Linked DNA regions of Homo sapiens. The protein of the gene in region 1 interacts with the protein of each later gene in a pairwise test. Each region holds a gene or a part of one and is shown in the gene's direction. Other genes may lie near its edges.

Region 1 (7,913 bases):
TCTTGGTCATCTTGTGGCCCTTGTCAAGGCACACGGCCATAGTGGGTAGCACAGAGCCATGGCTGCTGCTCTCCAATGGCAGCTGTGGCAGAAGGGCTGGTGCCACGCGGGGATCTACTTTTTTTTTTTTTTTTTTTTTGAGTCACGCTCTGTCACCCAGGCTGGAGTGCAATGGTGCGATTTCAGCTCACTGCAACCTCTGCCTCCCGGCTTCAAGTGATTCACCTGCCTCAGCCTTCTGAGTAGCTGGGGTTACAGGCGCCTGCCCCCACACCCGGCTACTTTTTGTATTTTTGGTAGAGACAGGGTTTCACCATCGTGGCCAGGCTGGTCTCAAACTCCTGACCTCAGGTGATCCACCCGCCTTGGCCTCCCAAAGTGTTGGGATTACAGGCATGGGCCACCACGCCCAGCAGGGGATCTGCTTTTAAAGGGCTCACTCATAGGGCTGTTGGCAGGATGCCTCAGTGCCTCACCACATGGGCCTCTCAGTAGGGTTGCTTGTGTGTCCTTGTATCACGGCAACTGGCTTCCCCCACTTGGATCTTGCAAGTGAGCTGAGAGAACAAAGTAGAAACCATAACCTTTGGCCAGGCATGGTGGCTCACGCCTGTAGTCCCAGCACTTTTGGAGGCTGAGGCAGTTGGATCACCTGAAGTCAGGAGTTCAAGACCAGCCTGGCCAACATGGTAAAACCCCATCTCTACTAAAAAATACAAAAAAAAAAAAATTAGCCGGGTGTGGTGGTGGGCACCTGTAATCCTAGCTACTCAGGAGGCTGAGGCAGGAGAATCACTTGAACCAGAGAGGCAGAGGTTGCAGTGAGCCGAGATCACGCCACTGCACTCCAGCTTAGGCAACAAGAGTGAAACTCTGTCTCAACAACAACAACAAAAAAACGTGTAACCTTTTTTATGACCCAGCCTCAGAAGTTGTACACCATCATTTCTGCAATATACTAGTGCTTACACAGGTCAGCCTTACTCATTGTGGGAGAGGACTACATAAGGGTGTGAATACTAGGAAGTGGGGATCATTGAGGACATCTTGGAAACTAGCTTCCACAGAGTAAGGTCAGGATTTGCAGGAAAGAGGAATCTCAGGTTTGGGGTATGTTAAATTTGGGGTTCCTATTTTATACTCTGGTGATATTAAGAGGCAATTAGATGTACCAGTCTAGAATTTAGAGGAGTTATCAGCAGGTACAGGGTAGTTTAAACAACTGGACTAAGAAAACCTGGGGAGTCAATGTAGGTAGAGGATAGGTCTACGGCCTGTACCCTGGGTATCTCCAATATTTAAAAGTCAGGACAGGAAGGAAGATTGGGACGGATTAGCCATTGACGTAGAAGAACCAAGAGGTGTCCCAAAAGCCAAGTGGAGAGAGTTTCAAGAAGAGAGAGTGAGCAGTTGTATCAGAAGCTACTGATAGTCCAGTAAAATGAGGAGTGAGAATTGACCATTGAAATTAGCAACAAAGAGATTCCTGGAGACTTTGAAAGGAACAATTTTGATACTGTTGAGGATGAAAATCGGATCAAAGAGCAAAAAAGGAAGTGGAGACATTACCTATAGGTGACTTGGGAGTTTCACTGTAAGGGAGAGCTGAGAAATGGAGTGGGATCTGAAGGAGAAAGTGGTGAGATGGTGGGTTTGGTGGTGAGAGCAAGTGAAGTTCTGTTGCTTCTCTTTTCTTAGTGGAAATTGAAAGCAAGGACATTAGCTAAGTGAAGAAATAGGAGGGGGTTTTGGGAGCCTAAGGAGAGAGGAGAAGGTCTAAGTCACCTTAGAGAGTGGGAGAGTGAACTGATTAGAGAAATGAAGTGGAATTGCCAGGCAGTCCTAAAGGAGCTTCAGGAAAGAAGTAGGTACAGAGAGTTGAATGGAACCAGGGTGTGGGTTTTGCTGGATTTGTAAATGAAAGACGAGAGGAACAGGGAGTTGTGGTTATGTGCAAGAGAATAATTACAGTGGACCATGGGATTTCAGGAGGGAAGTGAGGACGTGATAGTGTCAGCAGTGTCAAAGAATTGGTGGATTTCGGGTACTAAATAGTGAACTTGGAAAATAAGGGTAAGTAGTTGAAGACTCAGACACTTGAAGTTGAATTTTGGAAGATTTGCAGTTATTGGCAGTGACAGGATCTAGGTATGAGTATGAAAATGGGTAGCTGAGGTGAGATGGCAAAATCAAAAGATTATCATGAGTCGGGAGGTCAGTATTCATTATTGAAATCACCAGTTATGATGGGGTGATTAGAGTGAGGCAAGGAGCCGGTGCAGAGGGAGAGGTGTGAGGAGAAGCACCATGGCAAGAGGTTAGTGGCATACACGTTGGAATTAGCTGAAATCTGTTTCCTCGGTTGCATTGGGCAAAGTCACTTCTCATCAGTGAGCCTCAACATCTTCTCAGTAAAACAGGGATAATTACCGCCACCCTCAAAGAGTCATTGTGGGGATGAAATGAGATGATGGTTGTGAAGTACAGTGATCTGTACACAGCTAATGTTCAGTATTTACTGTTGACTGTTTTCTTACTGTTTCTTTTATTAAAAGAATTGATATGTGTGTAGAAGTGCTTAATGCCTGACCCGTAGCATGTACTATATGAATATTAGTTATTATAACTTTTATTATCCCTAAGCAAAGGGCTTGTGCAGACTGGAGCCACCGATTTCACTGTGTCTGGCCCCAGCTGATGCCTCTGCTTCTCCCCTCCCCTTAGAGCTTGGGAAAGTCGAGGTGACGGTGTTTGACCCTGACTCCCTGGACCCTGATCGCTGTGAGAGCTGCTATGGTGCTGAGGCAGAAGATATCAAGTGAGCTGGCGGGGAGCGGGAGCAGGGTTCCCATCAGGCGCCATCTGTCAGTCAGCCTCAGCCTCAGTCAGACTGTGGCAGGTGGGGAGGTCAGACCAAGAATCTAGAGTGGGCGGGGTATGTGCCTCTGTCATTGATCCTGGTGCAAGCGACTGAGGCTTTGTAACCAGGCCCTATCTGGGAGCTGCAGACCTAGAGATGAAGCTGAAGTGGTCTCTGCTCTTCCACCTAGAGAAATGGTTCAGAGGTGGTCTCTGGAGTCCAGTTACCTGGGTTCTACCCGTTTCCTTGGGCCAAGCCATGTAACCTCTCTATGTGAAGAGGGATGATAATAACATCTTCTCGTAAGAGTCACATATGGATTAGCTGTATACTGTGTGTAAAGCACTGAGGTGGAAGGCCCAGCCCAGATTATTAGACCCTCAGTATCTGATAACTGCTGCTGTTTCCCAGACCCTGACTTCTGCAAGACTGATTCAGCAGGTCTGGAGTGGGGCCTGGGAATGTGTACTTAAATTTTTTTTTATTGTGGGAAAATATGTGACATAAAATTTACCATTTTAACTATTTTTAAGTGTGCAACTCAGTGGCATTAGGTATCTTCACAGTGTCATGCAGTCACCACTCTCTGTCCTAAAACTTGTCATCGCCTCAAACAGAATGGGAATATGTATTTTTCACAGTCCTAGTCTGGGCACAATGGCTTACACCTGTAATCCGTAGCACTTTGGGAGGCCGAGGTAGGTGAATCACTTGAGCTCAGGAGTTTGAGACCAGCCTGGGCAACATAGCAAGACCCTATCTCTAAAAAAATTTTAAAAATTAAAAAAAGAAAACAGTCCTTCTGCCACTGAGGAAACACATTTGGAGAATGTTTGGTGGTCAGGGATGAGGCTAGCAGAGCCTTCATTAGCAGGCAGAGCTGCTCGGGCTCTATTTCCCCAGATGCCAGCACTGGACTTATGCCTCTTTAACACTCTCACCGTCACTCCCTGCCCTACAGGTGCTGTAACACCTGTGAAGATGTGCGGGAGGCATATCGCCGTAGAGGCTGGGCCTTCAAGAACCCAGATACTATTGAGCAGTGCCGGCGAGAGGGCTTCAGCCAGAAGATGCAGGAGCAGAAGAATGAAGGCTGCCAGGTGTATGGCTTCTTGGAAGTCAATAAGGTATCAGGAGGGATCAAGACAAGATAGGGCCAGCTGGGCTGGGCAAGCTCCACTGGGAACCGAGGGCCCAGTCAGGCCCTGAGTAGGCAAAAGGAGGACACAGCCAGTGAATGAGAGAGAATGTTCCTTACAGGTGGCCGGAAACTTCCACTTTGCCCCTGGGAAGAGCTTCCAGCAGTCCCATGTGCACGGTGAGTGATCTGCACTAGCTGGGGAGATTTAGATGCTGGCCACCTTCTTGGTGAGCTTGAGTGGTCCTCTTCTGCCTGCTGCTCATTTGTCTTGGGCAACCATTTGGCCAGAGCAGGCCTTCATCTCAGGGCAGCAGTTTGGCACAGTGGCTAAGAGCACAGGCCGAGGAGCCAGACTGCCTGCATTCAGATACCAGTTTCAGACCTTACTGGCTGTGTGACTTTGAGAAGGTTTCTTAATCTTTTTGACTCCTGTTTTCTACTTTATAAAATGTTGTGAGGGCACTTATCTCACAGGGTGTGTGTGCAGGTTAAAGATGATAGCACGGAGCCTGGCTTGTGGTAGGTACTTGTTGAAATGGTAGCCCCCCGTGTCCGATGATGACCTGTGCATGAGGCTTTGGGAGAAGCAGAGCTAGGTTGGAGCACAGGTTCTGCCACACCTGGGCTATGTCATATTTGGGCCCTATTTAGTTGCTTCTTCTGTAAAATGGGGATGATGATAATAGTACCCACTCACAGGGCTGTTGGGGTGAACAAATGAGATTTATTCTCATTCATTTGTTCATTCATGCATTCACAAAATATTTAGTAATCACCTACTAGTCTAGTTGCTAAGGGTACAGTAGTGAACAATCTGTGCCCTCAGAACATTCTAGTAAAGAAATAGACAATAAGTATATAAAATATAAATAGTCCCCAATTAACAATGGTTCAGCTTGCAATTTTTAACTTCATGATGGGTATTACATGCATTTTTCACTTAACGATATTTTCTTTTTCTTTTTTGAGACAGAGTCTCACTCTGTCGCCCAGGCTGGAGTGCAGTGGCATGATCTTGACTCACTGCAACCTCCACCTCCTGGATTCAAGTGATTCTCCTACCTCAGCCTCTTGAGTAGCTGGGTGTACAGGTGCGTGCCACCACGCCCAGCTAAGTTTTGTATTTTTAGTAGAGATGGGGTTTCATTATGTTGGCCAGGCTGGTCTTGAACTCCTGACCTCAAGTGATCTGCCCGCCTCGGCCTCCCAAAGTGCTAGGATTACAGGCATGAGCCACCGCACCTGGCCGACTTACAATATTTTCAACTTGCAATGGGTTTATTGGGACGTAACCCCAGTGTAGGTCAGGGAGCATCTGTATATGGTATATCAGATGCTGTTAAGTCATATGGACCAAAACAAGGCAGGATAAAGATGGTAATGGGGAGGGGCTAGGGTAGGGCAGTGAGGGTCCTATTTTAAATATGGAGGTCAGGGAAAAACTCTTTGATGAGGTAATATTTTAGCAAAGACCTGAAGACAGTGAGGGAGCCAGCCATGTGGATGTCTGGGGAGGAAGTGTTACAAGCAGAGAGAACAGCAAATGCAAATTCCTAAGGCTAGAATGTGCTTGGCAAGTTCAAGATACAGTAAGAAGGTTAGGGTGGCTGGAGCAGAGGAGCATGCTTAGAAATGAAGTGAGAGAGGCCGGGTGCAGTAGCTCATACCTGTAATCCCAGCACTTTGGGAGGCCGAGGCGGGTGGATCACCTGAGGTCAGGAGTTCAAGACCAGCCTGGCCAACATGGTGAAACCCTGTCTCTACCAAAAATACAAAAATTAGCTGGGTGTGGTGGCACACGCCTGTAATCCCAGCTACTCGGGAGGCTGAGGCACGAGAATCTCTTGAACCTGGGAGGTGGAGGTTGCAGTGAGCTGAAATTGCGCCATTGTACTCCAGCCTGGGTAACAGAGTGAGACTCCATTTCAAAAAATAATAATAAATAAAGAGAGGTCACAGGGCCATATCATGCAGGGCTTGCAGGGGCATTGTAGGGACTCGGGCCGTTACTCTGCATGAGATGAGAAGCCATTGTAGGGCCCTGAAGAAGGTGAGGCATGATCTGACTTAAAAGCTCTCCAGCTGCTCTGTGGACAAGACTGGGCAGGGGAAAGGACAGAATCAGAGAGGCCCATTAGGAGGCAGTTGCAGTGATCAATCCAGGCAAAAGATGGTGGGGCACGGCCCAGAGTGGCAGTGGAAGTGGTGGGAAGTGACTGGCTTCTGGATGTATTTTGAAGGTAGAGCTGAGAAGAGTTCCTGATGGGCATGAGGGATAAAGGAAAAAGGAGTCAAGGATGCCTCCAAAGTTTTGTACCTGAGTAGTAAGAAGGATGGAGTTGCCTGTAATCCTAGCACTTTGGGAGGCCAAGGCAGGTGGATTGCCTGAGCTGAGGAGTTTGAGACCAGCCTGGGCAACATGATGAAACCTTGTCTCTACTAAAAAATGCAAAAAATCAGCCGGGCGTAGCGGCGTGCGCCTGTAGTCCCAGCTACTCGGGAGGCTGAGGTAGGAGAATTGCTTGAACCCAGGAGGCGGAGGTTGCAGGGAGCCGAGATTGTGCCATTTCACTCCAGCCTGAGCGACAGAGTGAGATTCCATCTCCATTAAAAAAAAAAAAAAGGATAGAGTTGCCATTTAGCAAGATGAGGGAGACTCAGGGCAGGTTTAGATGTTCGGAAATGGGATCGTACAGCTGGTATTCGGCTTTTGACGTGTTCAGACCAATAGCATCTGGGTGTCCTTCTAGACACCCAAGGTGTCAAGTAAGTTTTCCATTCAAGCCTGGAGTTCAGGGAGAGGACTTGCCTGGAGATGCAGATGTTGGCATCATCAGCATGTGTATAGAGCTGTGGGACTGGATGAAATCACCCTGGAGGTGAGGGCAGATGGAGAAGAAGGGAAGCTCAAAGGGCTGGGTGCCAGGCCTCCCACATTAGAGGCCAAGGGTGTCAGGGGGAATTGGTAGGGGAGACTGGAGGAGGAGTGTAAGCTGGGAATGTGGCATCCTGCCAGCCACGGACGGGTGTTTCAAATACCACATCAGATGCTTCTGGATGTCAAGCGGGAATTGACCATGGCATGTACATGCAACAGTCACTTATAGCCTTGACTGAGTCATTTAAGGGTGTGACAGGACCACCCTAGAGTGGGTTCGGGAGGGAATGGGGGAGGAGTTGGAGCCAGTATTGACAGCTCTATAGTGGAAATTGCCTAGGGGAGGAGAGAGCATGAGCTGAAGCTAGAGGGAAATGTGGAGTCGAGGGAGGCTTTTCTAAGGAGGGTGATGTAGCAGAATGTTAATATGCTGTTGGAAATTATCGACTAAAGAGCATAAGTGATGCTCCAGAGACGAGACAGTGACCGGAGTGAAGTCCTGGAGAAGGAGAAAGAAGACAGAATCTAGTGCCTTACATATGTGGAAAGTCCAAACTTAGCACCAGGAGGAAGGGCAGGCTCTGTAGGTACAGGTAGGGTGGTAGCTGGTGTGGCAGAAGTACATGGAGAGTCTCTTCTGAGTCTTCCCATCTTCTCCGTGTTGTAGGAAGGAAGGTCCTCAGTTGAGAATGAGGAGAGAGGGAAGGAGGTGTTGGAGATTTGAAAGAAGAAAAGATGTGACTGGTCACTTGGGGGTGGAAGAGTGCGTGGACTGGGGAGATTGAGTAGGATTGATGCAGCCCTAGGGCCTCCCTGGAGTCCGCGGCTGTGAATGCAAAGAGAGCGGTCAGCATGGTTGTCTGTGTGGGAATGGACTCAGTCAACAGAACATTGCAATTGCATGGGGTTTGGTGTTGCCAGGTGCCTGCAAAGGTGAGGGAGTCAAATATGTAAAGAACTCATCTTGATTCTGGACCACAGCATATGAGCTAGGAAAGGAGGAAAGACAGGATGTGGAGAAGCCAGTGAGGGGG
Region 2 (8,703 bases), on another chromosome or scaffold:
GCCAGTCATGAATCATTAGCATACAAAAAGACACATCACTTTGGAGATTCCAAGGATTTTAGAAGCTATGTGCCAGGAAATGGGAAGAAGACCAAATATCTGTTTTACAACATCACAGTTCCCTAACATCATCCAAAGGTGACAAGTGAGGTTTTAAAAAATCATTATGAATTCATGTATGTGAATATATTTGATATTTTTCAATCCACTGAAGTTATTATACTTGTCGATGCTCAAATTTTCCCATCTTTAACCAGTGGGAACCTATTTAAGTTGGCTCCCAAATCCTTTTGACATAACCCTACTGGCCTTTAAAACTTCCCTGCTTTCCGACATGATAAGATGTTCCAGGCTTTCTTTACGTTTCCTAATCCGACCCAGGCCTGGGGTTAGCCATTTTTCCAAGGCAGAGGTTCTCAAAGTTTGGCCCAGGTCCTCTTAAGAGTCCCTGTGATCCTTTTATGGGGTCCGTGATGTCAAGATTATTTTCATAGTAAGAGTTATCACTCAGTATCCATGTCCCCAAGGATACTGAGGGTCCCAGGACCCCTCTCAGATACCCAAATCCACAGATGCTCATCTCCCTTGATAAAAGAAAAACTGTAGACAAATTAAATTTAACAAAGTTTAATTGATCAAGGAAAAAGCAATTCGCAAATTGGGCCCTCAGAATCACAGCAAATTCAGAGAGTTATTTCTGCACAGTTGGAGAGATTTTAAGAATAGAAAAAGGAAACTGAAATACAAAAAAAAAAAAAAACACAACAGAAGTGAGGTACAGAAACAGCCAGATTGGTTACAGCTTGGCGTTTGCCTTATTTAGACCTGGTTTGGACAGTTGGCCACCTGTGAGTGGCTGAAGTATGGCTGCAGTGATTGACTGAGATGCAGCTATTGTTACAGAAGTATGTCTCCATTAGATTTTTCAGTTTGCTTATCTATTAAGTTAGGTTGCAATTCCTAAGTAAGAACTCCAGTATGCAAGTATGGAGACTTTCTCGGGCCAGATTTTAGTTTGGTTTAGCACCCTCATATAAAATGGGGTAGTATTTGCATATAACCTATGCACATCCTCACATATACTTTAAATCATCTCTAGGTTATGTAACTGAGTATCCCCATTTTTCTAAGAAAAAGAGAATGAGTTATTTTTTTTATTAGTTTTCTTCTTTTCTCTTCTGTTTCTTGCTATTCTCCACTTCCTACTAGCCCGTTTGAAATGCAATTATAACCTTTACCTCCCCTTCACCAGACACTCCCTACAGGGCAAGTTCATCTAACTTTGTACTCAGAAGCTCCAGAACAAACTCTCACCCACCAGGAGATTGCCTCAAGAGGTAACAGTCGATTTACAACCCAAAGTATACATGATGAGAAACTCTTTCCCACCGGGAAAGTTTTTGGCCATTTTAATAACTTATTTCTGCCCATGAAGATGCCAACTTGACTGCCTAGTAGATAAGGTGCCAAGCTAGCATGTGGACTTCCTACCCACTTGCTGTCTCCCCTGCCTTTCGAAAGTACCCACTTTCTGCTCCAAAAGTGGAGCAGTACCTTTGAGGCTGGAAGCCCATACTTCTTCCCCTAAGCTAGCTTTGGAATACAAAGTCACTTTCTTTATACCAGACCTCGCTCTTGTTAACTGGACTCTGCAAGTGTTGAGTGACTAAACCTGTGTTTCAGTTACAATTACTTATAATACCTAATACAATGTCAATACTCTGTCAATAGTTGTTAGGCTGTATTGTTTAAAATTCATATTACTTTTTATTGTTTTTTTTCCTGAATAGTTTCTATCTGTGGTTGGCTGAATATGTAATTGTGGAACCCACAGATACAGATGACTGACTGTTTGCCCTTTTTATTTTACCCTTATAAAGTCTCATTCTCTCACAAATATACATGGGGATTTTCAGAGGCTATACGATGTGTTACATTATGATTGAATGCAGAAGCAGTTATAACAATTCTGCTGTCATTTATGAAGCAAGACATTAAAGACATTTACAAAAATGTAAAACAATGGCACTCTTCTCACTAATTTTTTAATGAGTACATTGTTACTTTAAAATGTTTAATTTCTAATGCAGTAAACATCAATAGATTAACCCACATAAACAAAAGCTCTTTGGGATCTCCAACAATTTTTAAGAATTTGAAGAAGTCTTGGAAGCAAAACTTTTGAGAACTGCTGCTTCAAGCAGTCCTAGTTCCTTTCAGTGGAAAATGTACATGAGAGATCACAACCTAAGAACAAAAGATGCTCATGATTATTGGTTTGCCAATTTCTTTTAGGCCATTATCAACAGGTAGAGCTAAGACAAAATTATATACATTTTTAAAGATAAAATACAATATGAGTTCATACTGATTCTTCCTGTTCACAATTTGACTATAGGATTTTTACTTAAACACATACAATTTATATACATGTCTCCCCATACCAAAAAAGATCAGTTTTTACAACACTCACGTAAACAGTTATTTTCAGTGTCAGATTAACAATACCATGATCAACACCACTATCCTCAATATGATTATTTAAAACAGTTTAAGATTTTTTTTTTTTTTTTTTGAGACGGAGCCTCTCTCTGTCACCCAGGCTGGAGTGCAGTGGCGCGATCTCGGCTCACTGCAAGCTCCGCCTCCCAGGTTCATGCCATTCTCCTGCCTCAGCCTCCCGAGTAGCTAGGACTACAGGCGCCTGCCACCACACCTGGCTAATTTTTGTATTTTTAGTAGAGACGGGGTTTCACTGTGTTAGCTAGGAAGGTCTCGATCTCCTGACCTTGTGATCCACCCGCCTTGGCCTCCCAAAGTGCTGGGATTACAGGCGTGAGCCACCACGCCTGGCCAAGATTTTTTTTAAGTTGTTTTTTTTTTGTTTGTTTTTGCGGGTTGTCTCTCAGTGGATTTACAATAATTCAATGGTTTAAAGTTATAGTTGATCCTTGAAAAAAACAGGTTGAACTTCGAGGGTCCATCATACGTGGATTTTCTTCTGCCTCTGGCACCCCAAGACAGCAAGACCAACCCCTCTCTTTGCCTCCTTATGATTTTCTTAATAACAGTTTATTTTCTCTGGCTTACTTTATTGTAATAATATAGCATATAATACATATACAAAATGTGTGTTAATTGACTGTATGTTATCAGTAAAACTTCTGGTCAAGAGTAGGCTATTAAGTTTTTGGAGAGTCCAAAGTTATATGTGGATGTTTGATTGTGCCAAGTGGAGGGGATTGGCACTACTAACCCTAGCGTTGTTACAAGGGCTATTGTATTTAGAATGATGTGTACCTTTGAGATTATGCCACCAAGTGGACCAATTAAGAGCTACTGGTTTTTACTTGATTTTTATGGACTGCTTTTTGTAAATTTAATTTTGTTTTGTAATGATATTGTTAAAATTAAAACTTTAGAAAAATTAAATTTAGCAGAAATTAATTGAGCAATGACCAATTTGAGAATCAGGCAGCCCTCAGAACCAGAGGAGGTTCAGAAAGTATCGTTCCACAAAGAGGCCAGGCAGCACGCATAGAAAAAAAACAGAAATGAGATACAGAAACAGCTTGATTGGCTACAGGTTGGCCTTTGCCTTATTTGAACATGGGCTGATCAGTTGACCACCTGTGATGATTGGCTGAGACTCAGTTATTTGTTACAGAAGTATATTCCTAAGTTAGGCTGTGAGTTAAATTGCATACTAAGTTGGGTTGCAGTTCATTATATAAGGACTCAAAATACGGAGACATCTTTAAGCTAAATTTAATTTCACAATATGAAATATTTACTTGGTTCTAAAGTCAAATTTATGAAGTAAGATGTTTCCAGAGATGTCTAGATTCTATCCCTGTCTCCTCTATCCTATTTATTTCCTCCACCATAGGTAGCATCTTTAAAAACCTCAATTGTTTTCATTCCCATTATTTTGAAAATTTAAGAAAATATGTATATATATTGAAATTACCACCATCTTTCTCTTTTTGGGTAAAAGCATACTGTACAAATTCCTATCCATTTTTTTTCCACTTTGTAATGTATTCTGGAGATCACACCACAGATGTATATAGAGTTCTTCCTTATTACTTTTGACGATTGTATTAGCATTTCATTGCTTTGTTGTGTGAAAGTTTTTGGGAAGCCACTGTTTTGGACTAGCTTCACGCACTAGGCCCCAGCAGACCAGACCAAACCAGAATGGAGTCGTTTGTGCTAAGTACCACACAATCAAACTGAACTTTGAAATGGGCCAGTTTCCCAAAAAATAGGAAATTCCCTTAAGTCTGAGTCAGTGAAACAAGGAAGTTTCTTCTGCTTTAACCCTAAAAGTAACTTTGAAACGATGAGTCCACTTTTTGTTCGGTTTCTGCTTTCTTCAGCCCCTATTTGCCAATAAAACCAACCGCCTCTGCTCAGCTGATCAGAACACTCATTCTACTTTATAGAATGAGGTGTTTTTTGATTCTAGAATCACGAATAAGAGTCAATTAAGATTTTTAAACTAATTCGTTGTAATGCTGTCTTTTGACTGTTGTACTACAATTTATTCAAGCAGTCCTTTATTTAGGAATTTGGGGGTAATTTCCAATATTTTGGTATTATGAATCGTGCTGAATAGTCGTGCATGCTCTTTCATATTTTCACCACACGTATTTTTGGGTGAAAGCATGAATTCATCTATGCAATTTTGCTAGATATTAAGCTACTCTTTTCACTATTCCTGTACAGATGGAGGGACAGATGAGACAGCTGCCCAGGGCACTTCAGCAGTTACTGGCATAGCTGGGATTTGAACTGGGATGTAACTATTTTCATACACTCTCTAGGTCATTCCAAGGTGGGAGAGGCAAGCAAATAATTTTGAATCTGGCCAGCATATTCACTGAAACATTTATGCTTATCCTTCCTCCTCCCAGCATACAAGTTCTTCCTTAGCAAAACCTCCAGTCCTCTAATTTAGCATACTTTCGTCTAATCTGTCACTTTCCTCAGGCCCCACAACTACGAGTACTCCTTGTCCCCACCCGGTCCTAATTTGGTCGGGTATAGCGGAGGTGGGCGTAGAGAGAACTGGAGGTGGAGACCTTTGTGCATGCCCACACACTGCTTTCCTCGCGAGGAATCTGGGGCCCTTGCAGAGGCGGAACCAGGATGTGACGTAATAACCGCGCGCGGCGCTCGGCGTTCCCGCAAGGTCGCTTTGCAGAGCGGGAGCGCGCTTAAGTAACTAGTCCGTAGTTCGAGGGTGCGCCGTGTCCTTTTGCGTTGGTACCAGCGGCGACATGACGGGGTACACTCCGGATGAGAAACTGCGGCTGCAGCAGCTGCGAGAGCTGAGAAGGCGATGGCTGAAGGACCAGGAGCTGAGCCCTCGGGAGCCGGTGCTGCCCCCACAGAAGATGGGGCCTATGGAGAAATTCTGGAATAAATTTTTGGAGAATAAATCCCCTTGGAGGAAAATGGTGAGTGACAGACCTCTCCGGTCCCCCCCAACACATCCCACTGCTGCCGGCAGCCTGAACACTGAACGTCCGCTCCCTGCAGCCACACCAAGGACTGATAACGCTCAGTGCTCTGGGACACTGGCCAGTCCCGAGAGTCCTCCTGGAGTCTCGGGAGGCAGGAGTCCAGGAATATGTATGGCTTTGAGAGAATCATGCCTTTTACTGTCAAGTACAGTGGACGGGGGCGAATTTTAATACTTAGGTTTTCCAGGACGCTGCACGTTTGGTTCTCTTTTGACTGTAGAAATCTTCCCTCAGAATAATAACCAAGGACTCGCTAGAATTAAAATTCTGTGATTTAAGTATTTGAGGACACTTGTCTGACTTTTAAGTGTGAGGTTCTAGAGACCAAGTAACACAGTATCCAACCACCAGAGGGCACAGCCAGCCCCTAGCTGATAGTACAGCCCCATGTGATCCCCGTAAAAGACAGGGTCCTGTTGGTATGCCTTGTGAGTCACATTCAAGAGCTACCTTTCTAAACTACCGTTCTGTACTTTTAACACAGTGTTTCATTAAAAAAATCGCATTTTGGGCTTTGAAGAAAATCACTCATTCAAGAACTTTATTTTCAAGGCCTCTGGGTATTTTCTTGAGGACTGTTATGGATGATAAACATCTCAGAATTGCTTTCAGTTACCTGCAACACTTACTGATGACAGGATAATAGTAGTAACAATACTACGTAACACACGGGTGCTTGCTGTGTGCTTGGCACTCTACTGGGGGTTTTACATGTGTTACTTCATTTCTTTATTCCTGTAAGGTAGATATTCCTAATCCTCATTTTAAATGTGAAGAAACTGAGGCCTACAAAGCTTCAGTGATTTGCTGGTGGTCAGGGAGCTAGGAATTGAATATGAGTTCATATTGTAATCAACATGTATCTGATTCTTACTGTGCTACAAAGTCTAGTGCAATAGAATTGTTGAAAATTTTTCTGAGAAAGTGATATTGGATACTTATTTATGGTGGTAAAATTCAACTCTTCTCCCACCCTTTGTATCCCTGACATTATCGGAATATTGGCAGTCACTGATTTAAAGTTGACATCCCATCCATCAGCAAGTGATATAAGGAAGTAAATAAATAATAATGTGTCGAAGTTCACCTTACCTTACTTTAATTTATTCTTTTATAATCATATCTGTTATAATTCTTAGATTCTGGATTGTCCCTTCCTTGAATGGATAGGTGTTTTTTAATCAAGTTGGAAGACATGGGAAAGTTCCATTTTTAGTTCTTTTTTAAAATAGTGTTGCAGAGGGCATTTTGGAGTGAGTTTGGGACACCCCATCTTAGTATGTAAAACGTCCTTTTTCCAGCATTGGCGTTGTCAAGGTTGTCTGCCTTATACCTAAAATGATGTGAGTGTCATTGATCAATAAATAAGGGAGATGACTATACCTGAAAAATTCTGTAGGTTTGATTACTCTGGTTAAATACATTAAAATTATTCTTTCATTATTTTGCTATATTTTATCTTTAACAAACTTATAATAAGGATATTTTTGGAAGTCTTTAAAAAATCTATAAATGCCTTGTTATAGTCTTGCAAAATACTGCTTAAGCATTTTGGTCTGGACTTTGTAGGTATCTTCTAGCAGACTCTGCATTTACTAAGAATATTTGAGTAGATGAGGTTACCTACAGACTATAAGAAAATATGTGCCATTTAGAGTTTTGTAAAATAGTCATGGCATTGTTACATCATTGATGCCTTTTGTTCTGCCATAAATATAAAAAATGGGATATGTTTATTTTGTGTATGTGTTTTTCCCCCCAGGTCCATGGGGTATACAAAAAGAGTATCTTTGTTTTCACTCATGTACTTGTACCTGTCTGGATTATTCATTATTACATGAAGTATCATGTTTCTGTAAGTATGTCCTTTTCAGAATTCATTTTTAATATTGTCCAAAATTACTTTCTTTGTGGCTATCTTACCCTACTTAGTGGAAATAATCTGCCACTTATAAACAGATTTTGAAGTACTTTGAATTCTCTTAGGTAAAAGGTTTAATGAAAGTTACATAATTGGGTATAGTTTTTAAAAAATATTGTCACTAGTTTACAACTTGAAATGGATTTCCTCATAGAAATTAGTATTTAAGTGATAAGAATGTAGTGACCTAATAATACTAGGGTAAATTTGGAGTCATGAATAGGAAGGGAGAAAACAATTCTGCTCCTTTTTAAAAACCTGTATCTCGTATAAGGTAAAAATTCAAAATAGACAAAGCATATCTTTGTCATCACCCAATTTCTGTTCCCTTCATTTTATCTGATTCTTCACAATTTTTATTTATTTAGAACTCAGGATGTCCAGATGCCTGCACTTTTTCACTGATACAGATCTTGCATGGGCTGATGGAACTGAGCCAGTTGTGGTATTTTAAAGGCTTGGTCTGGTGCAGGGTGTTGGATCCCAGGCAGAATGAGAAGGGCATGCATTTTGGGAAGTGGCGTGGCAGAGGGAGCAGTGGTGACTGCGTAGCCTGAAGTGTTGGAGCACAAAAGAGTGAGGAGGGCATTCGTATACCAAGAGAGGGGTGTTAGATCCTCAGTGGGTTGCAGGGGAGGAGGGTGAGCACATCTGTTTGGGGAGCAACAGTGGCAACAGCCTAGTATAGGATATTGGTACCTGAGCAGAGGGAGGAGGACATCTGGAAGAAGGATGGTATGAGGCAGTGAGGCAAGTGGTAACTCAGAGCAAGATGTCAGAACCTGAATGAGGTGAGGCAGGTATTAATGCTGGGATGTGGTTGTGGTGACAGGAGATGGGTTATATATAGGGAGATTGGCCAAATACAGGCATACCTCAGAGATATTTCAGAATTGGTTGTAGAACAATGCAGTTCCAAAAGTATTCTTTGGTTCTAGACCACCAAAACGAGTTACACAAATTTTTTGGCTTCCTAGTGCATATAAAAGTTATGTTTACACTGTGCTGTGGTATAAGTGTGTAATAGCAGTGTAAAAGAACGATGTATATGCTTTAATTTAAAAATACTTTATTGCTGGGCCATGTGTGGTGGCTCCCACCTGTAGCCCTAGCACTTTGAGAGGCCAAGGTAGGAAGATTGCTTGAGGCCAGAAGTTCGACCGGCTTGGGCAACATAGTGAGACTCCATGTTTCCAAAAAAAAAGAAAAAAAAATAGCTGGATGTAGTGGTCCACACCTATAATCCCAGCT
Region 3 (7,913 bases), on another chromosome or scaffold:
TTATGGATAGAGCTGTTGTGTAGGATCACCTCACAGTAGTTGTCTGTGGTAGTTGTCAGTAGTTGTCTATGGATCTGCTACTGTAGTAGCAGTAGTTGTCTATGGATCATGCTACTTGTCTATAATCTGTCAATAGTTGTCTATGGATCAAGCTACTTGACCCGTGTTTGGGTCTGCTCTGGCCAAGGAAGTAGGGTCTTATAGTACAAAGTGAAGAAATGTGTATAAAGCACCTCCTTTGGCAGCTTCTTCATCAGGGGGCCATTGACATGTGCAGCAGGTGGTGGGAGTATAAGAGACTGGTGCAAAAGTACCCACTGCCTCCACCAGAAGTCTAAGAGTTACCTATCCATGCCATTGGTGTCAACTGCACCTTCCCACTAATCCACTCAAGGTTTCATGTCCAACTCAGGCCCTTCTCGTAAGCTATAGATACACAGAACTTATGGTGACTCAACATCTTCATTTCCCATAGAGTGAAAAAAATCTCTGTAAGTATAAAGACAAAACTCATCAGTTTTCTTCTCCTCCCCTAAACTTGCAGTTTACCCTAGTATTTCATATCTCAGGGATAGACAGCACTCAGGCACCTATGGGAGTCATTTTTTATTTCTTGGTCGCTTCCTTGCTCCATCCCTGCCCTGAAACACACAACTCAATACACACACAGAAACACATATATCTAATCAGTCACTGTTGTCACCAGATCAATCAAAACAAAAACTGATTACCCCCAAATTGAAAAATTTTCAGTAGCTTTCTGATAGCTGTCAATAAAGTTCAAAGTAAACTGCTTAGCTTGGCCTACAGGGCTGCTCATGATTGACCCTGCCCTTCCTCACCAGCCTCACTGTCCACCACTCTTATGCTCTTCCTCATTTTCTTTTTTTTTGAGGCAGGGTCTCCCAGCCTGGAGTGCAGTGGTGCCATCACAGCTCACTACAGCCTCAACCTCCTGGGCTGAAGTGATTCTTCCACCTCTGCCTCCCGAGTAGCAGGGACCACAGGTGTGTGCCACCACACCCAGCTAATTTGTGTATTTTTTGTAGAGACGAGGGTTTCACCATGTTGCCCAGGCTGGTCTCAAACGCCTGAGCTCAAGTGTTCCCTCCACCTTGGCTTCCCAAAGTGGTGAGATTACAGGTGAGAGCCACTGCACCAGGCCTGCGTTTTTACCTATCCATTTTGCCTGAATGACTCTCTAGCTGGAGTAGCTTTTCTCACTTAGGTGCTTTGGTTCCTGTTGGAACCTCTGCTTAGAATGCCTTCCTTTAAATCCATCTGAAATTCCTATAGTTCTTCAAGCTTTAAGGTTCAGCCTTGTCTAGCTCCCCTAGGCAGACTAAAGTAGTTCCTATATATACTTGTACATATATACTTGGTCAATATTACCACTTGGTTGTAATTATTTTCATGTCTTTCTCTACTGACTGTTACGGAAGACAAGAAGCAGGTCTTGGTCATTGTTTTATCTCCAACACTCAGACATTCTTTAAATGTTTGTTGAACTGATACATTTGCAGGGTCCTCCTGGGCAGAAACATCACTCTGTAGGCATTTGCTTAAGTACCTTCATTATGGGAGCAGGAAGAGGCAGTTAGGGAGCATGCCTTCCTTAATATACCTGTCTCCTGCATTTCACTCATGCTTTGGGAATTGATAATATCAAGATAATTGCTTTTGAAGAGGAATCCATATATGGGAAGCAGTGGCCTGTAGAAGATCCCTTTATTTTTAGCTGTATACAAACCCCAATGTGAGGCTAGTGAGCTAGCCAAGGTGTGTGAAGAATGCTAATGCCTAGGCCCACAGCACCTAGAGCATGGCTCCAGAGTGTCCATGTGGCCTCTATAAGAAAGAAGAACAAGAGCAGGCATCCAGGTGCCACCCCTTCCTTTCCTGGCACATCTTATCTCACCACAGTGAAAGGATTCCATGGAAAAACCTTTCCAAGAGATAGGAGAGGAGCTGGAATAAAAGTTTCCTCTCTAGCCATGTAGAAGCAAGAGATGGAGTATCAGGAGGGGCAGACTATGCTGTAGCCCGGTTGCCAGGCAGCACTGTGAACCATGACTGTTTCCTAACAGTGGTATTTCTCCTCAGGAGCCAGGGAGCCATATCATAAGGCCAGCGAAATCTGCTGAGGCATGGTTTTGAGTTAGGAAGAATCATTGAGAAGGCCTTATATACCAGTCCATTTTCAACCTTAATGACTCAGGGACTGGGCAGGAAGGAGGGGTGAAAAGGAAAGGAGAATTTTGTGGAGAAATTATTGACTCTTATTTGACAGATGTAAACATCAGATCAAGTGACTTGTTCAAGGACTTAGAGCTACAAAATGTCAGAGTCAGAATTTTAATGCAGCTCTAAATCGAGTCCCTGTTTCTTTTCACTGAAGCATTCATAATATATGTTATTTTTGCAAAAAAAATAGCTTATGGAAACAAGAGACTAATCTCACCTTTTGGCTACATGACCTTAGCTCTTACATGGTATGTGCCTGAGTGACTTATGAACTAATTAGCTATTTAGCTGTTGAACCAATGATTGTTCCTTTACAGGATTGGTACAGATACATTCTTATAACAATTCTGACCCTTTATACATCTCTCATAATATCCAGGTACAAGTTTTGAGTGTTTATTTTCTTCTCTCCTGTTGAACTGAACTGAGTAGGGAAGAGGCAGAGAAAATGCGATAAGGGTATAGAATGACATAAAATCTGACTTCAGCTTAATCATTATTGAGTTCAGCCAGTTGACGAGGAATGAAGGAAAAACAATCTTTTTGGCATCTCCAAACTAATTAACTTCATAACAGCTTCCATAATTGCATTTCTATCTAATAATATTAACTTAAAGGAATGATATGTTTATGTGGCTTTAAAGCAGGGTTTTCCATCTTTGTTCTATGGGTCCCTTCAGGAGTGAAATGGAAGGACAGGGAGTAGATAGTCCGCAGGCCCTTCCACTGGCCTCTGCAACCAAAGCGGCTCTGTGGTTTTTGTTTCACCTGTTGGGGTTCTCATTAAGCTTTCTTTGAATGAAGGATTTTGTTTTATTAAATAAGTTTAATTGTTTTATTAAGTAAGTTTAAAAACCATTGCCTTTAATCGGATTCTGAGAGCTATGTTGAGAGAAGATAGTAAAATTTAATTCAACTAATATTTGAGTACTTACCATGTGCTAAGCCCTGAGGAGACTGTACTGCTACAGCTACACTGTCATTACTATTGCTTAGCAGGAAAAACAGATATTAAACAAGTAATTACAAGTGAGATGAACTTCATAAGAGGAAAAATACAGTGTTATGATGGCATAGAGCAAGGAGACTCAACCTGGTCTCTAGGGCAGTGGTTTCTAAACCTAACCAGAGTAATTCAGAGAGCATTCCTAGTCTCTACCCCTCCCTAGGACGCCTCAGAGATTTTGATCTGCCCAGATTGAAATCTCCAAGCACTGTAGGGGGTGGGGGGCAGGGGGCAACCAGGGAAGGTGTCATAGAGACATTCCTGAGAAGTTACTTAAAGGTCTAGGGTAGCCAGACTAGACGGTGAGGCGGAGGATGGGGCCGGAGCAGCCTGGGCCCTGAGGAAAGCTGTATAGAAAGGCTGAGAGTGGAGGGGAGGTAAAGTGTGTTCAGGGAATTGACCAAAGCCCAGTCTCTAGACTTGGAGGGAGAGGGTGTCTCAGTATGTACATATTTCTAATATAGCATTTATCATTCTGTTTTGTATTGACTGCACCTCCCAGCCGTCAGTCTTTAGTGACCAAAGCCATATTTTGTTTACGCATGAAGCTGTAGCATCTAGTACCTAGTAGGAACTCAAGAAATAGTTGATGATCCAGTGAACAAAGTCTCTGCATATAGGGGCTTAGTTCAGAGTAAGAAATGGAAAAGAATATTAATAATTGTGAAGTAGGATAGTAACAACTTTTTTTTGGCCAGGCATGCTGATTCCCGCCTGTAATCTCAGCACTTTGGAAGGCTGAGGTAGGAGGATTGCCCGAGACCAGCCTGGGCAAGACAGGGGGACCCCAGCTCTACAAAAAATTTAAAAATTAGCCAGGCATGGTGGTGCATGCCTGTGGTCTCAGCTATTGGGGAGGCCAAGGTGGGAGGACTGCATGAGCTTGGGAGGTTGAGGCTTCAGTGAGTGAGCTGTGTTCGTACCACTGCCCTCCGGCCTGGAGGGCTTTTTTTTTTTTTTTTAGACGTAGTTTCGCTCTTGTTGCCCAGGCTGGAGTGCAACAGCACGATCTCAGCTCACTGCAGCCTCCACTTCCTGGGTTTAAGCGATTCTCCTGCCTCAGCCTCCCTAGTAGCTGGGATTATAGGCATGTGCCATCACACCAGGCTAATTTTGTATTTTTAGTAGAGATGGGGTTTCACTATGCTGGTCAGGCTGGTTTCAAACTCCTGACCTCAGGTGATCCACCTGCCTCGGCCTCCCAAAGTGCTGGGATTACAGGCCTAAGCCACCGTGCCTGGTTTTGTTTGTTTGTTTGTTTGTTTTATTGAGATAGTCTCTCTCTGAAGCCCAGGCTGGAGTGCAATGGCACGACCTCAGCTCACTGCAACCTCCACCTCCTGGGTGCAAGCGATTCTCCTGCCTCAGCCTCCCGAGTAGCTGGGATTACAGGCGTCCGCCACCATGCCTGGCTAATTTTTGTATTTTTAGTAGAGACAGGGTTTCACCATGTTGGCCAGGCTAGTCTCGAACTCTTGACCTCAGGTGATCCACTCGCCTCGGTCTCCCAAAGTGCTAGGATTACAGGCATGAGCCACCACGCCTGGCCTCAAATGCAATTTTATGCAAAAGTCTTGATACATACCAAACCATTGTGGTTATATACATGTAGGGGTTCCTTCTCAGTTAATCTCTCTCCCCATAACATTCCAACCTGTGCCTCTACACATTTTACTTTTATTATTACCTCTTCCTATTCATATCTACCTGGGGAGTTTCTACTGTTATTTCTTTCACATTCAGTACCTGACTCCTTTTCTCTTCCATTTGCTCTAAAGTTAGATGCCCAGCCTGTCCTCCCAGCATCTGGTGCATACCTCTCTTTTGAGCTACATCAGTGGTTGCAAACCCAGTTTTGAGAAGCCTTTTCCCTAACTCAGCCATCCCACTGCAGTATCCTGACATGTTTTAGCACCAAAAGCTTGAAATGAGAGGGGTTGGGATCCAGAGTGCATATCAAAGGATTGAATTTTGAGAGCCAATAGAAGACAGAGGGTGCAGATACAGATAGGATTGTAGATTGTGATAGGCATCTGAGCAGCTCCTGCTAGCAGTCATTCATCAGGGAGATAAAAAGCTGGGTGCCATTAACTGAAAGAGAGGAGAAATTAGACTAGGTGGGAAATAATCTTGGAGTGCTAGGTGGAAAGAGTAGGCTGGAAGGCCTACTAGAGAAATGTGGGGACATTAGGTGGCATTGTATCCCAGTAGAGGTTGTTGGTAATGACTTGTAATGGCATTACTGCACCATCCTCTCTGACTTTTTTTCCTCCTTTCAGTGATGCTCAGCTGTTTGGGTATAGACAGCAAATAAGATGGTTGGGTTGGGTCAGGCACAGTTGGATTTTATTAAGGGAGTGTACAAGAGGGACTCCTAAGAGCCAAGGGTGTGGATAAAGAGGAAAATGAATATAAGTATAGGAGGGGTGAAGAAAGTTGTGGGGTCAGTGGACTGGAGGTTTTAGTGAAGCTGAAGGATCATTTCAAGAAGGAATTTCATCGGGGCTTTGGAGAGTCAGTGAATTCAGGGGACAGTCCATTCATTTAATGCAAGATAGTGGATGGAAAGTCCCAAGAGTTGGAGGATATAGAGGTGTTTCCTGTTCACCGAGCATGAGATCCAGAGAATACATTTTTTGTTAATAAAGACATTTTAACAGGTAGAGCCAAATTGCCTGTGTTGGAATCCCATCTCTGTCATTTACTAGCTGTGTGACTATATAATCTCTCCGTGTCTCGGCTTCTTCATCTGGAAAATGGGGATAAAAATAATACCTATCTAGTAATGTTGTATTAAGGGTTAAATGAGTTATTAATGTCTGTAAAAGCACTTCAATAAATACCACCATATAGGAAGTATATATAAGTACTTATTAAATAAAAATAGTGTCTTCACTATATATTTAATATATAACTCTTTTAAAGTGTTAATGCCTAGCAACTGTTTCCTTCCTCTCCCCCTCTATTTATTCCCATAATCTTATAATTAAACCTTTGCCATATGCTCATTTGCACTAGTTCTCTACACATTTTTTCATTAGGCTCGTAAGACTGTGCTAATCATTCAGAAAAGTATATTTTAAATATCTCTATTTTATGAATTTTATTTTAGCTGTTAAACGTTTAATGAAAGAAGCGGCAGAATTGAAAGATCCAACAGATCATTACCATGCGCAGCCTTTAGAGGTTAGTTTCTATCTCCATGTTCTTCATATGGATTTTAATATTTAAAACAAATTTTTTAAAATTGCTTTTCATTGCTTTGAGTCATTACAGATGTGTGTGATGTAGTTTGACGTTTTATTCACCATATTTCATGAATATTTCATTAGCCATTCCAAATCACTTTAGAAGAAACGGATTTTGTGGTCTTTATAAAATGGGTCTCAGATGCTAAGTTGAGGTTAGATCTTTTTTTTTTTTTTTTTTTTTTTGAGGCGGAGTCTCACTGTGTTGCCCAGGCTGGAGTGCAGTGATGTGATCTCGGCTCACTGCAACCTCTACCTCCCAGGTTCAAGCAATTCTCCTGCCTCAGCCTCCTGAATAGCTGGGATTACAGGCCCCCACCACCACGCCCGGCTAATTTTTGTATTTTTAGTAGAGACAGGGTTTCACCATGTTGGTCAGGCTGGTCTCAAACTCCTGACCTCGTGATCCACCCGCCTTGGCCTCCCAAAGTGCTGGGATTACAGGCGTGAGCCACTGCACCCGGCCGAGGTTAGATCTTGAGTCTGAGGGAGGGGAGGTGGAAAGAACCCCAGATACTTTACAGTTTGGAAGCCTTTTGATGGGTCTCCGTAGCTACTCAAGGCTTTTTGTATAAACATCTCGGCCTCTCTCAGTCTTCTCATTTGTAAAAGGAGGGTATTTAAATATACCCAGGCAGGTTTTCATGGTAACAGTGGGAATAAAAATATCATAACTTAAGTGCAAGTATTTTGTAAACTGAAAAGTACATGGTAACTGTAAGATGACATTAAATACATTAGTATTACCATTTTATAAATAAGCTCTTAGGCATCTATAAGGGATAATTTTTAAAGATTTGTTAAAATAACCCAAACATAGTAATTTTTTGATTATATAATTATCATAATTTGCTATTCTTTCAAGGATTAATTTCCAATTTAAACCTGTAAGTTACTTATGAATATATAACAACACTCAGAAATTTTTAATGTGTTTATTATAAAATATTTTAGCTCAATGGAACATGAAAGCTAGATTAAATAGCTTTTACTTATAAATTTAATTTATCACTTATAGTCTCGAGACATCTCATGCATTAGAAACTATACTAGCAATAATATAAAGCATTTAATTTTTCTTGCTTGGTAATATTTCTAATATTCAGATAAAATGATCAAACTTTTCAATATTATTAATTCCTTGTGGATTATTGTTTTTGTTCAGGATAACCTTTTTGAATGGCACTTCACGGTTAGAGGGCCCCCAGACTCCGATTTTGATGGAGGAGTTTATCACGGGCGGATAGTACTGCCACCAGAGTATCCCATGAAACCACCAAGCATTATTCTCCTAACGGTAAGAATTTTGGATTTTTAGAGTGCTTGTGGCTTCACTCTTCCTGGTAGCTGCAAAATATAGTAAGCAAATCATTTTCATTAAGAAATAATAGAACAGTATAATTTTGCTTTTGGGG

The links.
Region 2: the proteins of ERGIC3 (region 1) and NDUFB6 interact in binary tests that used the Homo sapiens proteins (3 or more experiments, as listed by UniProt).
Region 3: the proteins of ERGIC3 (region 1) and UBE2J1 interact in binary tests that used the Homo sapiens proteins (3 or more experiments, as listed by UniProt).

What each region holds. Positions count from the first base shown.
Region 1 is NC_000020.11:35,544,688-35,552,600, forward strand, and holds part of ERGIC3 (endoplasmic reticulum-Golgi intermediate compartment protein 3), read left to right. Parts: exon of another isoform or gene 1-95; intron 96-2,724; coding exon 2,725-2,818; intron 2,819-3,821; coding exon 3,822-3,987; intron 3,988-4,120; coding exon 4,121-4,178; intron 4,179-7,913. UniProt on the Homo sapiens protein: Possible role in transport between endoplasmic reticulum and Golgi. Positively regulates trafficking of the secretory proteins SERPINA1/alpha1-antitrypsin and HP/haptoglobin.
Region 2 is NC_000009.12:32,569,643-32,578,345, reverse strand, and holds the start of NDUFB6 (NADH dehydrogenase [ubiquinone] 1 beta subcomplex subunit 6), read left to right. Parts: upstream 1-5,186; 5' UTR 5,187-5,285; coding exon 5,286-5,465; intron 5,466-7,293; coding exon 7,294-7,386; intron 7,387-8,703.
Region 3 is NC_000006.12:89,342,206-89,350,118, reverse strand, and holds part of UBE2J1 (ubiquitin-conjugating enzyme E2 J1), read left to right. Parts: intron 1-6,362; coding exon 6,363-6,436; intron 6,437-7,663; coding exon 7,664-7,795; intron 7,796-7,913. UniProt on the Homo sapiens protein: Catalyzes the covalent attachment of ubiquitin to other proteins. Functions in the selective degradation of misfolded membrane proteins from the endoplasmic reticulum (ERAD) and is essential for cells to recover from ER stress.